2 separate regions of the Homo sapiens genome follow, and region 1 is linked to region 2. The links come from fine-mapping of genetic effects on gene expression. Tissue or cell type: esophagus muscle. Region 2 holds a variant in brackets; the other region holds the start of a gene. All regions are shown on one strand. Distances are from middle to middle.

The links. PIP is the estimated chance that this variant, and not a neighbour inherited with it, causes the effect.
Region 1: GINM1 starts here. The variant in region 2 is fine-mapped to the expression of GINM1 in esophagus muscle (GTEx, PIP 0.96).

The regions. Positions count from the first base shown.
Region 1 is chr6:149,564,863-149,567,467 of GRCh38, forward strand. GINM1 (glycosylated integral membrane protein 1) reads left to right here and starts at 1,513. Exons shown (of 8, transcript NM_138785.5): 1 at 1,513-1,672. The coding sequence starts at 1,553. RefSeq lists enhancers at 680-809, 2,060-2,109 and a silencer at 1,240-1,789.
Region 2 is chr6:149,589,796-149,592,555 of GRCh38, forward strand. GINM1 (glycosylated integral membrane protein 1) reads left to right here. Exons shown (of 8, transcript NM_138785.5): 8 at 932-1,953. The coding sequence ends at 1,043. Among named protein-coding and RNA genes, the nearest start is that of GINM1, 25 kb to the left of the region's middle. The variant T/C (reference allele first, on the strand shown) is at 1,311.

The DNA of each region.
Region 1 (2,605 bases), 25 kb before region 2:
AGCTGGAATTACAGGTGCGTGCCAGTATGCCTGGATAATTTTTGTATTTTTAGTAGAGATGGGGTTTCACCATGTTGGCCAGGCTATTCTCGAACTCCTGACCTCAAGTGATCCACCCGCCTCGGCCTCCTAAAGTGTTGGGATTACAGGCGTGAGCCACTGCACCCGGCTTCTAGATTCCTTTTTTTTTTTTTTTTTTTAATAGACTCAGGCGATCCTCCTGCCTGCGTTTGCTGCATAGCTGGGAGTACAGGCACAAATGACCACGCCCATCTCCAAATTCATTTTTAATTCCAGCAGTAGGAAAAAAAGGAAAAGGCCAAGTTTGCAGATGGAACCCAGAAGTGTGTGGGGCTTCGCTGTGAAATCACTTGTAGCTTAACAATGGCGTGGGGAATCTCAGAGTAAGCCCGGAGTTAGTTGAAAGGAGTCTTTAGCCAAAACGTTTATAATTTATTCTGGGGCGGGGCCGGGGGAGGGGGCGGTGGCGGTCAGCAGGCCTGTGGGAGGAGGGTGTTCAAAGGAGTAAAGGGGGCTCAAAGAGAGAAATAGATTCTTGTTTCCTTTTTCATGTCAAAAGTTTTATTTCATGTCAAAAGTTTTATTTCAAAGGAAGACTAAATATTACTCTTATTCTGCCTGAATGGCCAAGTTTCCAAGTTTTTCTCAATCAACATGCAATCCTGTTAATCTAAAATGCTTGAATTTCTTGCTACTCTGCTTTACAGGGTTCCGTAACTTTTTTTTTTTTTTAAATCTGCAAGGTGGAAGAAAAGTCTAACACTTTCACTTTAGAGTTACGATACTGACCAAAAAGGCACTGACAGCCCAGGTGCGCTGGCTTCCTTCCAGCTGAGCGCTGTCCCCGCGCCGCCTCCAGGGGTCGGCAGAATGCTGAACAGTAAGCATGGCGCATCCTCAACCTTGGCCCCACAATGAATCACCCGAGAAAATTAAAAAACCACCAGGGCCCGAGCCGCAGCCCAGGCTGGAAAGTGGGGTGTTCAGGAAGACCCCAGTACTTTTTAAAGCTGCCCGGGAGAGTCCCACGTGCAGCCAAGGGTGGGGAATTACCCACTTAATAAAAACTTCCCCTGTAAATGCGATGTTTCATTTTTAATGTATAACAGTTTTCTGAAATATTACCGTTGTTTTCATCGTATAGGTACATGTACATGTGCACACACAGACACATGCATGTGTGTAAATACTAATTTTAAAAATAATGGTTACGAGGACATTTACATCGCTCCAGTTGGAGTCCTGTCCAATCCTGAGGGCGGGTCTAATGAGGGGCCGTACCTTCCAAGATTTCACTCCGCCCCTCGACGCCGCGCGGCGCTGCGCGTGCGCAAACGCCTTTCCCTGGCGAGCCGGATCTCGGAGCGTCCCCGCGCCTCTCCGCGGCCGCCCGGGGAGGGGAGGGCCCGTCCCGCCCCTCCCCGTCTCTCCCCGCCCCTCCCCGTCCCTCCCGCCGAAGCTCCGTCCCGCCCGCGGGCCGGCTCCGCCCTCACCTCCCGGCCGCGGCTGCCCTCTGCCCGGGTTGTCCAAGATGGAGGGCGCTCCACCGGGGTCGCTCGCCCTCCGGCTCCTGCTGTTCGTGGCGCTACCCGCCTCCGGCTGGCTGACGACGGGCGCCCCCGAGCCGCCGCCGCTGTCCGGAGCCCCACAGGTAGGGCAGGGCGGGCCTGGCTGGCCGCTTTACGACTCCGACTCTCCGGGAGGCCCGGGCTGTCCACAGTGACGCTTCCCACATCCCACCGGCGGGCAGGGGCGGGGGTCCGGGCCCCCGAAGGAGGTGTGGGGAGAAGCACCCCAGGAAATGGGGGCGGCGTGGGAGGCCGAGGTAAGAGGAAAGGGACCCACTGGGGCTGCGTCGCTGTGAGTGAGCCTCGAGCCACTCCACACCGACTCTCCGGCGGCCCAAGCCGGCGCGCGACCTGACGGGGCTTTGCCGTCGAAGCGCGCGGTTGCCGGTGATCAGGCCTTCGTAATGGCGCCTTCCCGGGGTAGAGCCAGCGCTTGGGCAAGGAATGTTTGTGTGCTCGGGAAGTGTGGAAGTTGCCCACTTCGCGCATTTCCAGGCCACTTGTGCCTGCTCGGCCTGCGATCGCGAGGGTCCGCCGTTCCGAGGCTGCGGGGCTCCGCCGGGCTCAGGTGGGCAGAGGGAGAGACCTGGCCCTCGCGCGACGTAATGTTTTTGTCGGATGTTGGAGGAGAAGTTCTCACGGCGGGGCGCGATCGGCGGTGTCCGCATCCCCTGGGGACTCAGCCCGGCCTCTGGGGGCGGGGCCCAGCAGTCCGGGTTGGAGAGTCCTGCAGGTGCTTCTGATGCCAGCTGAGGTGGGAGAATCGAGGCATCCTAACATTAAAACGTGGCTGATGCTCACCATTCCTGCCGTAGAGTCGTGCCTACCTAGGCCAGTATCAGCCTTTTTTCAGTAGAATGGTAGGGAAAAGTTTGAATATTTTAAAGAGCAAGTGTTCTGAGAATGACAAGAAACTATGTCGGTACACCTCTTCCTAGTCAAGACTTGAATATGAACACTCTAAATACAAAGGCGAAGGGCACGGTAAGTGTCACTTTGACCAACAAGGTGAAACC
Region 2 (2,760 bases):
TCATGTTTTGTTTTTGTTTTTGAGACAGGGGCTAACTTTGTCACCCAGGCGGCAGTGCAGTGGCACGATCTCGGCTCACTGCAACCTCCACTTCCCGGGTTCAAGCGATCCTCCCACCTCAGCCTCCTGAATAGCTAGCTAGCTGGGACTGCATGTGTCCCATGCCCAGCTAATTTTTTCTATTTTTAGTAGAGATGGGGTTTTGCCATGTTTCCCAGGCTGATCTTGAACTCCTGGGCTCAAGTGATCTGCCCGCCTTGGCCTCCCAAAGTGCTGGGATTATAGGTGTGAGCCCCTACACCTGGCCTACTATCATGTTTTAATAAAACCTTTGAGAGCTACTTAAGACAACTTTGTCTTCTCCCCATTGTTCTTTTAAAAAAAATCTTATGGCTGTTCTTGCAGTTACTCCCCTGTGAACTTTAGAATCTGTTTGGTTCTATAAACAACTAACCCCCGTTGATGTTCTTATTAGAATAACACTGAATTTACAATGCAGGGTCCTAGATTCAATCCAAAGACGTACTCTCTGGTCAGGGATTTTAAGTAACAAAAAGAGCAACACTATCTAAAGACCTAAGGTTGTGTTGTGGTGGTGAGTATTATTTAGAGAGAGGCTTAGGCTTAGGCTTTTTGCTCAGCCTGGGTGTATCTAGGAACCTAACTCTGCCTTGGAGATCTATACTTACCCTATTCTTCCCTAAAATAGGAAATAATGAACTTCCTCGATGCCTTTCTATTCTCTCAGCCAGTTTGGTTAAAGTGACTTTGGGCTCAGTTTGTACAACCACTATGAATTTTTAAATAGAATGTAGCAAAAGCACCTAACCTTAGGTGTATATTATAACCTTGAAGTAGCCTTTTCTCACTATCAAACTACAGGCAGAGGAAACATTTAATTTTGATAGTAATTAATCACTTTCTATTTCAGAGGAATTCTTCAGTTGGATAAAGTGGACGTCATACCTGTGACAGCTATCAACTTATATCCAGATGGTCCAGAGAAAAGAGCTGAAAACCTTGAAGATAAAACATGTATTTAAAACGCCATCTCATATCATGGACTCCGAAGTAGCCTGTTGCCTCCAAATTTGCCACTTGAATATAATTTTCTTTAAATCGTTAAGAATCAGTTTATACACTAGAGAAATTGCTAAACTCTAAGACTGCCTGAAAATTGACCTTTACAGTGCCAAGTTAAAGTTTACCTTATTCTCGGCCGGGTGCAGTGGCTCATGCCTGTAATCCCAGGACTTTGGGAGGCCAATGCGGGCGGATCACGAGGTCAGATCAAGACCATCCTGCCAACA[T/C]GGTGAAACCCTGTCTCTACTAAAAAAAATAAAAAAATTAGCTGGGTGTGGCGGTGCACGCCTGTAGTCCCAGCTACTTGGGAGGCTGAGGCAGGAGAATTGCTTGAACCCGGGAGGCGGAGGCTGCAGTGAGCCAAGATCACGCCACTGCACTCCAGCCTGGGTGACAGAGCGAGACTCTGTTTCAAAAAAAAAAAAGTTGACCTTATTCTCTAAAAGGGCTGGCTATTCATATGATGAATTGTTAAGGAAAACTTAAAGTGGAAGAGAACACATGTGAAGAGACTTTGAAATTATCAAAAGAAAAAAAAAAGACCAGACAAAATCTCATGTGCCAATAACTTTTCAAGGTGCCTTTGTTAAGGAAATTATATCCACTTAATTACTATAATATATAAGACTTTATGAAAAGCACTTTATAAAATTCTAATTTAAAAGGTCAAGAACTTAACACTTATTTTTTTATTCAGTACAGTGTGCCTTTATATTAAGTATGTGACTCAGTATAAAATCACTGAAGTGTATCATGATTTGATTGTATCCTGTACCAAGACTACTTACCTTGAATGCTCCAAGATTTAAAAGTAGTATGACATGTTCTCACTCTAAAATAAACTTTTTTTTTTTTTTTTTGAGGAAAAAAGTATAGCTGTTTTGGTTACACTGATATAAAACCTTTGCCCAGGTAAGAATGGCTGAGATGCAGGAGTAGGTATACTTTCATTTACACTGGCTGAAACCATGGCTCAAATTGAATGAGTCCATTGATGTCATGAATTAGACTGTGCCCTTGGTCTTGTGGTTCTAGATATAGTGCTGTTTACCCTAAAAGTGTTTTATTACCTTTTTTAACCATCACTCATATTGACATATTAATATTTTACAATGTGAACGAGTACATATAACTCATCTCTATGTGATACTTTTTTGAGATGGAGTCTGGCTCTGTCGCCTAGGCTGGAGTGCAGTGGCGCAATCTCGGCTCACTGCAAGCTCCGTCTCCCGAGTTCATGCCATTCTCCTGCCTCAGCCTCCCGAGTAGCTGGGACTACAGGCGCCCGCTACTATGCCCGGCTAATTTTTTGTATTTTTAGTAGAGATGGGGTTTCACCATGTTAGCCAGGATGGTCTCGATCTCCTGACCTTGTGATCTGCCTGCCTTGGCCTCCCAAAGTGCTGGGATTACAGGCATGAGCCACCGCGCCTGGCCCTCTATGTGATACTTTCTGTTGTTTCATTAAAAAATATTTTTACTGGCCGGGCACAGTGGCTCATGCCTGTAATCCCAGCACTTTGGGAGGCCGAGGTGGGCAGATCACGAGGTCAGGAGATCGAGACCATCCTGGCCAACACGGTGAAACCTCGTCTCTACTAAAAAAAAAAAAAATACAAAAAATTAGCCGGGCGTGGTGGGGGGCACCTGTAGGCCCAGCTACTCGGGAGGCTGAGG